Linked DNA regions of Homo sapiens. The gene in region 1 interacts genetically with each later gene. Each region holds a gene or a part of one and is shown on either strand. Other genes may lie near its edges.

Region 1 (3,651 bases):
AATAGAGCAGCCCACTCCCAGATTATCATATTTTAAATATTACTAGGTAGTTGCCTAATTTTCATTGATTGTCTCTTGACTCTCAATCTTATACATCTGGATGTTTTTAACTCTGTTATTTTCTTTGTCTTTGGAAAGAGTGTGGAAAGAAAAGTTTGAACAAGCTGAAAAAAGAAAACTTCAAGAAACAAAAGAGTTACAGGTATTATTTCAACTTTCTAAACTGATTAGAAAATAAAAGAAATATGCCAAGAAATAAATATTGCCAATATGCCAATGCATGTAAATTTAATGTTTCAAATACTTACTATATACTGACTCTGTACAAAGCAATACCGTAAGGAAAATTAATATAAAGAAATGTTAAGATCAAGACTGGTTGCTTAGAGCCAGCCCATAAACTAGTTGGAAAGTTAAAGTATGAATAAACCATCTTGTTATATTTACTTTGGTTCTACAAATATATATTAAATGTCTATGCTTTTCAGGAACAGGGGAAGCCAAGGTGATTAAACACAGTTTCATCCCTCAGAGAGCTTGTGATCCAGAGAGAGATTTACAAAACGTAAATAGAAGACTGAAATGCAATGTGATTTCAGTAGATTGAGCCATAAGCAATTGCCATTTTTGTAGGTAAAGCATGGTTGAACACTGGCAGTTTCATATGGTTGAACCTAATGTAATGAAAAGTATTTCAAGTGATTGGTAGTGGGGGAGTACTATAAGAATTCAGGAGAAGAAGGGAAAATTCCTTGCGCATGGCCAATCCAATCTCATAAAAGAGGTGGCATTTGAGATGGGCTTTGAAGTTTGGGTAAGATTTTAATAGGAAGAGAAAAGGAAGAGCACATTCTTGGAAGAGAAAATTCTCTGAAAGTAAAGGTAGAAAAGTTTGAGTTGTCTTTAGAAAGGGTACGTAGATCAGTTTTACTGGAAGCAGTTTATATGAGATCATAAGGAGATACAATTGGAAAGATATGTTATGATTAGTTTATGAAGGACTTGATTTCCAGGCCAAGGAAATTAAGTTTTATCCTGTAGGAAGTGAGAAGCTGTTAAAAAGTGACCAGGGAATTTACATTTTGAGAGCACCCTTTCGAGAGAATTAACCTGGCATAGGATATAAGATGGATTGAAAACAGAAGCTGTTGACGGTGATCAAGAGGCTGCTTCAGTAGTTTTGGTGTGAGTTGACAGGGGCCTGTGGTGAAGGCAATGAAGATGCAACAAAACAAACTGATCTATTCTAAAGACGGTCAGTCAATAAGAAGACACAATTTGGTGATGATAGATTGATGTATGAGTAGACTGAGGATGGTGAAGGACAAAGAAGGTAGGGAGGTCACAAAGGAGAGATTCTAAGGAAGGAGGAGAGAGTCTAAAAAACCTTTATGGCCGGGCACGGTGGCTCACGCCTGTAATTCCAGCACTTTGGGAGGCTGAGGCGGGTGGATCACCTGAGGTCAGGAGTTCGAGACCAGCCTGATCAACATGACGAAACCCTATCTCTACTAAAAATACAAAAATTAGCCGGGCGTGGTGGCATGCGCCTGTAGTCTCAGCTACTTGGGAGGCTGAAGCAGGAGAATCGTTTGAACCCAGGAGGCAGAGGTTGCAGTGAGCCGAGATCGTGCCACTGCACTCCAGCCTGGGTGACACAGCGAGACTCTGTCTCAAAAAAATAAAAATAAAAAAATAAATAAATAACCTTTAATTTAGTGAGACTTCATATAGAATTGTTTTAATGTTTAATATAGACCATTTGTTTTAGGTGAATTTAACAATTTCATACTGTGATTAAGATTAATTTCTTTTTCTGACTTCTACCAGAAAGCAGGAATTATGTTTCAAATGGACAATCATTTACCAAACCTTGTTAATCTGAATGAAGATCCACAACTATCTGAGATGCTGCTATATATGATAAAAGAAGGAACAACTACAGTTGGAAAGTATAAACCAAACTCAAGCCATGATATTCAGTTATCTGGGGTGCTGATTGCTGATGATCATTGGTATGTTAATCCTCTAAAAAAAAAGAAAAGGCACCTGTTCTATATCTTGATAACATGTGGTTTCCTTCATATGGCATATTCGTTGATACTGATCGTTTGGTAGAATTCTTCAAACCCATTGTTTAGTCAGGAAAAACATACATTCTGAGTGTGTTATAAGGATGATAGGTCAGTTACTCTCAATATAAAGTACAGTGTAATGCTCTCTCTGTTTTTGTTTTGGCATACTTGATCTGTTGATTGAAGAATAATTTATTTTCTTGCAATTATAATGATGCACATGCAAGTAAACTATCTATCTTACATAACAGAATTTTTGGTTGGATTGACCAATTTAAAAATGTTACTTTATGTGAATTTTGTTCATATGAATGGAATACTTGTATATATTGTTGGAATGATAGCGTATGTAAACTTTTTTGACTCTGCATTGTGTTTCCAAGATTTGTGTACATTGGTTCCTGTTTTATTTTCACTGCTATGAAGTATTCCATTGTATGAGTTTATCTCTTATAAAGTTTAGGAAGTGCTTTTAAATTGTATGTCTGAGAGTAGAGATACTAGGTTGTAGAATATGTGCATATTCAACTTTAGTAGCTAATTTCAAATTATTTTCCAAAATGAATTTTTACTCCCATTGGCCTTGAGAATACCTGTTACTCCACATCGTTGCCAATACTTAGTACTGTCAGACTTTATGCCAATCTGATGAACACTAAATAGTATATCATTATGGATTCATTTTACATTTCTTTGATTAATAATAAGGTTGAACATCTTTTCATGTGTTGATTGGCCATTTTTGTTTACTATTGTAACTTGCCTCTTCATATCTTTTGTTGATTTTTCAACTGATTTGCTTATTTCTTAATAATTTGTAGGAGTTGCCAATCTTTCGTGAGCTTTTTGGTATAAATATCTTTTTTTCTAACGTGTAACATCTTTTTACTCTCTCTGGTGCCTTTGATTGATTGAAGTTCTTAATTTTATTGTAGTACCTGGCATCAGTCTTTTCCTTTATGATTGTCAGTTTTTATGTCTTAAAGAAAGAATGTTCTGGCTGGGCGTGGTGGCTTATGCCTGTAATCCTAGCACAGGTGTGTGGGCTCAGGAGTTTGAGTCCAGCCTGGGCAACATGGTGAAACCCTGTCTCTACTAAAAATACAAAAAATTTTCTGGGCGTGGTGGTACCTGCCTGTAATCCCAGCTACTCAGGAGGCTGAGGCATGAGAATCGCTTGAACCTAGGAGGTGGATGTTGCAGTGTGCCGAGATCATCATGCCACTGTACTTCAGCCTGAGTGACAGAGCGAGACTATGTCTCAAAAAAAAAAAAAAAAAAAAAAAAAGAGAGAGAGAGAGATAGAGTGTTCTGGCCAGGTGCGGTGGCTCACGCCTATAATCCTAACAGTTTGGGAGGCTGAGGCGGCAGATTACTTGAGACCAGGAGTTCAACATCAGCCTGGCCAACATGGTGAAACCTCATCTCTACTGAAAATACAAAAATTAGCCCGGCATGGTGGTGGGCACCTATAGTCTCAGCTACTTGGGAGGCTGAGGCATAAGAATCACTTGAACCTGGGAGGTGGAAGCTACAGTGAGCCAAGATGACTCTGCTATACTCCACCCTAGGCAAT
Region 2 (3,651 bases), on another chromosome or scaffold:
CCATCAAGGATGCAGACACATAGCTTCATGTTACCATCCTCTTCTCTCTTGCTCCTGGTGGACCTGGCTGATGCATCACAGAGCTCATTCCTGCAAGTCTGGGCTCAGCCTCAGATCCTCATGCCAGCACCAGGCAGCCAATACCAATAGAATTGTTAGGTGAGATGAAACCTGTTTGCCATTCATAGATGAGAAAAGCTCATCTGGCTCCTTTAGCAGATGTTTGTTTCTTGCAGCCCCAAGACTAGCATCTACCAACTCCTCAGTCCTGGGGGCGGACTTGCCATCAAGCATGAAAGAAAAAGCCAAGGTGAGTGGGACTGCCTTCCAAGCTATTGCCTATGGGATTTAAGGTGCCTGGTAGGGGACAGTCTTACATGTCAGAGAAGGATAGGGTTGTGAGTAATTGCCCCACCTGGATTCAGAGCTCAACCTGTGTCACCAGTTGTGGGATCTTAGTCCCTTCACCTCTCTGGGCCTCAGTTTACTTTTCTATAAAGATAAGGATGATGCCTGCTGCAGTGGGCCACTGGGCACATTCTACACCTGGGGTAGGCGATTTCTTTCCTCTTTCATGCCTGCGTTCACCCGTTCACTCAACAGATCTTGACTAATACCTGTTATGTTCCAGGCACTGTGCTAGGTGTGGAGGCACCGTAGTGATCAAGACATCTGTGGTTCTGAAACTCTAAAAGCATTTTCCAAACTGGAAACTGCTCAAAAAACAAGGTGTCATTTTCTAATAATCCAGAAAGCAGAGTTAGATACATACATGTATAAAGAATTGTGCCTCTGCGATTGCCTGGAGCATTAGCAACAATGTCTCAAAGTAATTATGAAGTAATGATAAGATCAACAACAAACTGCTACTTACCACTTAGTAAATAACTACCATGTCCCAAGAACTGGGATTCTGTTTTCTCAACACCTCTGGTGAGAGGAGGTGCTGTTTTTAACCTCACTTTAAAGATTGGGAAACAGATTGAAGGGGTAGTTTACCCAAACTCACACAGCTAAGAAGTGGTAAGATTGGGTTCAGATGCAAGTGGCCTGTGCTCTTAGTTCACCATGCCATACCAGATGTGTCTGTCACTCTTGTTCTCTGTAGGCAGAGACAGAGAAAGCTGGCAAGACTGGGAATTCCATGCCACACCCTGCCACTGGGAAGACGGTGGCCAACCTTCTTTCTGGGAAGTCTCCCAGGAAGTCAGCAGAGCCCTCAGCAAATACTACGTTGGTCTCAGAAACTGAGGAGGAGGGCAGCGTCCCGGCCTTTGGAGCTGCTGCCAAGCCTGGTAAGAAGTCCCCACCTCTAGGAACCTAGTCCCCAGAACTTGGGCTGGTGAGGCAGGCCTAGGCATTGCTTTAAGTTCTGGGACATTTCTGGAATCAAAAGTTTGTCTCCAGGACAGCCAGGTTCCTGCATCTTAGGACTTTTCTCATCACCTAGACGAGGGAGGGTCAGCTTACAGGGACCTGGCCTCAGGCTGAACAGCCCACCTGGTGGTTGGAGCATTTTCTGCTTTATGACTCCCTGGTGAGTTACAGGGACAACTGGCAGCTCAGAGACTAAACTGAAAGGCCTGATTTGCCTCTGTTTCCTATGTAGAGTAGACATCTGTCTGGCCTGCATCAGTGGATATGATGGTGGATGGAGGTTCTGTAGACTGTCAGGTGCTGGTGCATATTTGTTGGGTCCCCTCACAGCCCTTCCCAGGGCCTCAGAGATGTGTGGGAACATAGGGATGGTGATGGTACCCACCTCAGAAGGGGGCTTCACAGCTCAGTGCATGTGAGGCACACGAGGGGTGAGCGCTCAGCACCTGGCTTTGATGAGCAGCTGGTTTGTGGGGAGGTGCTGGGGAGGGGCAGGTGAGGCTGGAAAGGGAGTCCCTCAGTCCCCTCCGTGTCCGATCCTCAGGGATGGTGTCAGCGGGCCAGGCCGACAGCTCCAGCGAGGACACCTCCAGCTCCAGTGATGAGACAGACGTGGAGGTAATTGCCACCCATCCCTAGGAGTTGCCCTCTCCCAGCCTCTAACCCTTCCAGGAACCTGTCTGGGGCTTCAGACACCAGTGGGCCCAGATGAGTTCAGCAACTGTGGTAGGGTGACCAGGAGCTGGAAAGGCTGCAGCCGGAGAGGGGCAGGGAGAGGAGTCTGGTGCTGCTTGCTGCACTCTGAGTGTGAGATCAGCCCTGGGGGCAGGAGAGGGACACCCTCCTGCCTGTGAGACTAGACAAGCCTTCCTGGGAGAGGTGCCCTGGAGTAGGGCCTCAAAGCACAGTGGGCTTCACTGGGAAGGGATGTGGAGGAGGCAGGGCATTCCAGACAGGAAATGGGGCAAGAACAGGGCCCAGAGGCAACAGTGTGGCTGTCGTGGTCTGGCTAGGGCTGCGGCTGCTGAGAGGGTTCTGGGCCAACTGGTGAATGCCAGGCCTAGACACTTGGCTAGAGTTGGGCAGGACTCTTGGGTTTGTGAACTTTGACCTGGAAAAGGTCTCCACAGGTTACTTTTTATTGTGTACCTACTAAGTGGCAGACCTGGGGAATATAGTGATGAGCAGGACAGGCAGAGTTCCTGCTGCCATGGGGCAAGGGAGCGTCCCTCAGATATTTAATTGGTGATGGCTGCTATGAAGTGGAAATGTAGAGGGCCACGCAGGGCAGGAACCTGACGTTGATGAGTAGGCGTAAGCAGAAGGAATGGCATGTGCAGAGAAGGCGGCAAAGAGAGTTTGGTGCTTTTAAAGAACATTGATCTTTTTTTAAGACAGTCTCACTGTGTCACCCAAGCTGGAGTGCAGTAGCGCGATCTTGGCTAGCTGCAACTTCCACCTCCCGGGTTCAAGCGATTGTCGTGCCTCAGCCTCCCAAGTAGCTGGGATTACAGGTGCACGCCACCACGCCTGGCTAATTTTTGTATTTTTTGTGGAGACAGGGTTTCACCATGTTGGCCAGGCTAGTCTCGAACTCCTGACCTCAAGTGGTCCATGTGCCTTGGCCTCCCAAAGTGCTGGGATTACAGGCATGAGCCGCCACGCCTGGCCAAAACCTTGATCTTTAAATGAGAGGGAGAAACCAGGCACGGTGGCTCGCACCTGTAAGTGCAGCACTCTGGGAGGCCAAGGCAGGAGGATCATTTGAGGCCAGAAGTTTGAACCCAGCCTGAGCAACATAGTGAAACCCTGTCTCTACAAGATGTTATTTTTTAAAAAAACAAATAAATTATGGGGAAAGTGACACAAGATGAAGTCCTAGGTAGACAGGGGCCAGATCTTCTGTCTGACCTTGAGGACCACCATAAGGAATTTGGGTTTTATTCTAGGGGCTGTGAGAAGCCATGCCAGCAAGGAGAGATGGCCTGATTTGCATTTAATAAGATTGCTGGCTGCAGCCTGGGTTGGAGGGCAGTGCAGAATAAAAGCAGTAAGACCATGTAGGAGACTATTGGAGTAATACTGATACTGGCATAAGAGGCTGGGGGCTGGGAGACCAAGGTGTCCACAGTTGGAAAGATGTTTTCAAGGGAAAACCAGCACAAGTCAGGGATGAACTGATCTGGTGCCCAGGGAACTTCTCACTTTACTGTGCTGCCTGGCCCAGTAACCCTGTGAAGGTTGAAAGCTCACCCCCATCTACCCCAGGCCTTA
Region 3 (3,651 bases), on another chromosome or scaffold:
ACTCTTCCTTCTCGAAGTTTCTCATGCTTATTTTCCTTGGGGAGGGAATAAAGAAAGATTGGAAATACATTATCTGTGCAACAGTAGATTCCTTCAGATATTAGATACCTGTCTTACCTTCCCTTACTGGGAACTGAATAATTGATCTATGTTGCTATGGCTGTGTTTTCTTCCCTGTGTAGAGAGATTGGACAAAAGTGTCCCCAAGAGCTGAGTCGAGACCCTTCAGGGACAAAGGGCTTTGCAGCATTCCTGACAGAACTAGCAGAACGTGTCCCAGCTATCCTGATGTCCAGCATGTGCATTTTGCTAGATCACCTGGATGGAGAAGTAGGTGGTCCACTAGGGGTCACTGAGCTTTTTCTGGGGATTTTAAGTCCAGTGTTGAAAGGCTGTTTCTTAACAGAACAAGAAAGTAGCTTTGACAAGTTGTCTAGATTTATCATTGTGACATTTCCTTTCTGTAGAGAAGCAGGTCAAGTTTGTTGAATAAGGAGCTCTTTATTAATCTGTTAATCTTTCAATTCACATTGCTTTTATCCAGTTCTGGTAAGGGAGATGACATTTCTGCAGCTTAAGTCTAGTAAGAGCAACTCAGCTTTGATTTTTTTTTTTTCTTGGAGGTAGGATCTGGCTCTGTCACCCATGCTGGAGCATGATCATAGCTCATTGCAGCCTCGATCTCCTGGGCTCAAGCAATCCTCCCACCTCAGCCTCCCAAGTAGCTGGGACTTCAGGCACATACTACCATGCCTGGCTAATTTTTTTAGTTTTTGTAGAGGTGGGGTCTTGCCATATTGCCCAGGCTAGTCTCAAACTCCTGGTCTCAAGCAACCCTCCTGCCTCAGCCTCCCAAAGTGCTGGGATTGCAGGCGCTACCATGCTTAGCCTTCAGCTTTGATTCTGAGTCCCATCTGTTCCTCAGGATAAAGCGTCTTCCCACCAGCTGGCTTGCCTTGCTTCCTCAAACAATGAACTTTCTCAAATCAACCCATGTCATCTCTCTCAATTCTCTTTTATGCCTGAATGCTAACCTGGCTGATTCCCATACTGATGTTGGGCACTCCTAGGTGAATGTCAAGGACAAAGACAGTCCACTTGTTCATCTCATTTACTTTAACTTTTTGTGCAAGACCCTATTCTCTGGTTCTTAGCCTGGCAAAACCTTAACCCTGCTCTCCACTAGATTATGTATTGGACTTGCTGGCACTCTTAAGGCTGATTTCCATGTTTCTGTCTCATTTTCTGTCAGTAAAGCATCTGAAGGAGAGTGGGAGGGAAAGGAGGGGATATTTATTAGTAAGGATTAAAGACTTTGAGGCCAGGTGTGGTGGCTCACGCCTGTAATCCCAGCACTTTGGGAGGCTGAGGTGAGTGGATCACTTGAGGTCAAGAGTTTAAGACTAGCCTGGCCAACATGGTGAAATCCCATCTCTACTAAAAATACAAAAAAAAATTAGCTGGGTGTGGTGGCGCGCACCTGTAATCCTAGCTACTCGGGAGGCTGAAGTGGGAGGGTTGCTTGAACCTGGGAAATGGAGGTTACAGTGAGCCGAGATCGCACCACTGCACTCCAACCTGGGTGACAAAACGAGACTCTGTCTCAAAAAAAAAACCAAAAAAAACCACACAGACGGGCGCGGTGGCTCACGCCTATAATCTCAGCACTTTGGGAGGCCGAGGAGGGTGGATCACGAGGTCAGGAGTTTGAGACCAGCCTGGCCAATATGGTGAAATCCTGTCTCTACTAAAAATACAAAAATTAGCTGGGTGTGGTGGCGGGCACCTGTAATCCCAGCTGCTTGGGAGGCTGAGGCAGGAGAATCACTTGAACCCGGGAGTCAGAGGTTGCAGTGAGCCGAGATGGCGCCACAGCACTCCAGCCTGGGCAACAGAGCAAGACTCCGTCTCAAAAACAAACAAACAACCACAATAACAAAGGCTTTGAGACCTCAGCTGAAGGGTAGTTAATAAATGCTTTTCAAATGTGTGTTGGTGAGTGGATGTGATTTTTTTATTCAGCTACTACCATGCTTTCCTGTGTGAGCCCTATGAGGAAAAATTGGTTTTGGCCCTTGTTCTAGCATTCTCTGAGCAACAAGTCCTCTTTGGGATTCAGCTTTCTCCTGTGACCTTGGGAGTGAATACCTAGGCAGTTAATGGAAAAAGTTATGGCCAAGCACAAGCAAGCTTCGCCTTGACTAAAGGTTTGACCCCTCTATGCTTCTCTCTCTTAGAATTACATGATGCGTAATGCTGTGCTGGCAGCCATGGCGGAGATGGTGCTGCAGGTTCTCAGTGGCGATCAACTGGAAGCAGCAGCCCGAGACACCAGAGACCAGTTCTTGGATACTTTACAAGCCCATGGCCATGATGTCAACTCCTTTGTGCGGAGCCGTGTTTTGCAGCTCTTCACCCGAATTGTCCAGCAGAAGGTAACCAACTTCTATGTGGCAAAAACATATGGTACCTCTCCATATACCAGTGTAAAGAGGAATCCAGTGTTGAAGATAAATATCTGCCCCAAAGAGGTCTAGAATTCACATTTTTATTATCAGTAGTAAAAGTCTTCCTCTACCAAGGACGAGGATATCTGGCTCCCTTTAAGGACTGTAATGTGTCTTACCACTACAAGGAGTACTCCTAATCTATATTCTGTAGAAAGGGTTTTTAGAGTGAGTGGGTAGCTCAGTTTAGAGTATACTTAAAGATCATCTTGAACAAAATGGATGATGTGGGACTTGAGCAGATTCTTCTCTTCCTACCCTACACAGGCTCTCCCCCTGACACGTTTCCAGGCAGTGGTGGCTTTAGCTGTGGGACGTCTGGCAGACAAGTCAGTGCTAGTATGTAAAAATGCCATCCAGCTGCTGGCCAGTTTTCTAGCCAATAATCCTTTCTCCTGCAAGGTAAGTAGACTTGGTCCACCAAAAGAGAAGGAATTAAATGGAAACAGGGATGAAATTATGTCATTTACTGACCCTGCTATTCATTTTACCTGATAGCTTAGTGATGCTGACCTTGCCGGACCACTGCAGAAGGAGACCCAGAAATTACAAGAGATGAGGGCCCAGAGGCGAACTGCAGCAGCTTGTAAGTAGTTACTGCCTTGGAGTCCTAATGCCAGACAGGCTTCTCCTTGCAGTCAGAAACTCTAGTGAAAGAGACTAAGTGACACTCTCATTTAGCTGCAGTGCTGGACCCAGAGGAGGAGTGGGAAGCCATGCTGCCAGAGTTGAAGTCTACCCTGCAGCAGCTTCTACAGCTTCCCCAGGGAGAGGAGGAGATTCCTGAGCAAATTGCCAATACAGAGACAACTGAAGATGTGAAAGGACGCATCTATCAACTGCTTGCCAAAGCTAGTTACAAGTAGGCAAAAGAATGGGATATTCTTCGTGATCTGTTTATGTTTAGAGTTAACCTTTGAGAAACTTACATAATGTGTCTTTTAAATTAACTGCACACAGATATGCTGCCACCAGGTGATGGTAGATGTTTTCATGTAGTAATGGTCTGACCATAGGCCTAGTCCACAATTAAGCATGTGTTTCTACTTTATAAATGTTTAAAAAAACTACTGAAACAATTAAATGTTAACAGTATTATAATCAAACATGAGTCCTCCTTCAATTGAAGAAGAGCACCTATAAA

Evidence for each region.
Region 2: changes in KIF14 (region 1) and TCOF1 together harm fitness more than expected from each alone (negative genetic interaction), as found in Homo sapiens cells (one large-scale study listed by BioGRID).
Region 3: changes in KIF14 (region 1) and NCAPD2 together harm fitness more than expected from each alone (negative genetic interaction), as found in Homo sapiens cells (one large-scale study listed by BioGRID).

The regions. Positions count from the first base shown.
Region 1 is NC_000001.11:200,596,601-200,600,251, reverse strand, and holds part of KIF14 (kinesin-like protein KIF14), read left to right. Parts: intron 1-138; coding exon 139-202; intron 203-1,830; coding exon 1,831-2,015; intron 2,016-3,651. UniProt on the Homo sapiens protein: Microtubule motor protein that binds to microtubules with high affinity through each tubulin heterodimer and has an ATPase activity. Plays a role in many processes like cell division, cytokinesis and also in cell proliferation and apoptosis.
Region 2 is NC_000005.10:150,367,608-150,371,258, forward strand, and holds part of TCOF1 (treacle protein), read left to right. Parts: intron 1-236; coding exon 237-310; intron 311-1,108; coding exon 1,109-1,295; intron 1,296-1,921; coding exon 1,922-1,995; intron 1,996-3,651.
Region 3 is NC_000012.12:6,514,591-6,518,241, forward strand, and holds part of NCAPD2 (condensin complex subunit 1), read left to right. Parts: intron 1-182; coding exon 183-330; intron 331-2,237; coding exon 2,238-2,435; intron 2,436-2,774; coding exon 2,775-2,909; intron 2,910-3,005; coding exon 3,006-3,093; intron 3,094-3,188; coding exon 3,189-3,369; intron 3,370-3,651. UniProt on the Homo sapiens protein: Regulatory subunit of the condensin complex, a complex required for conversion of interphase chromatin into mitotic-like condense chromosomes.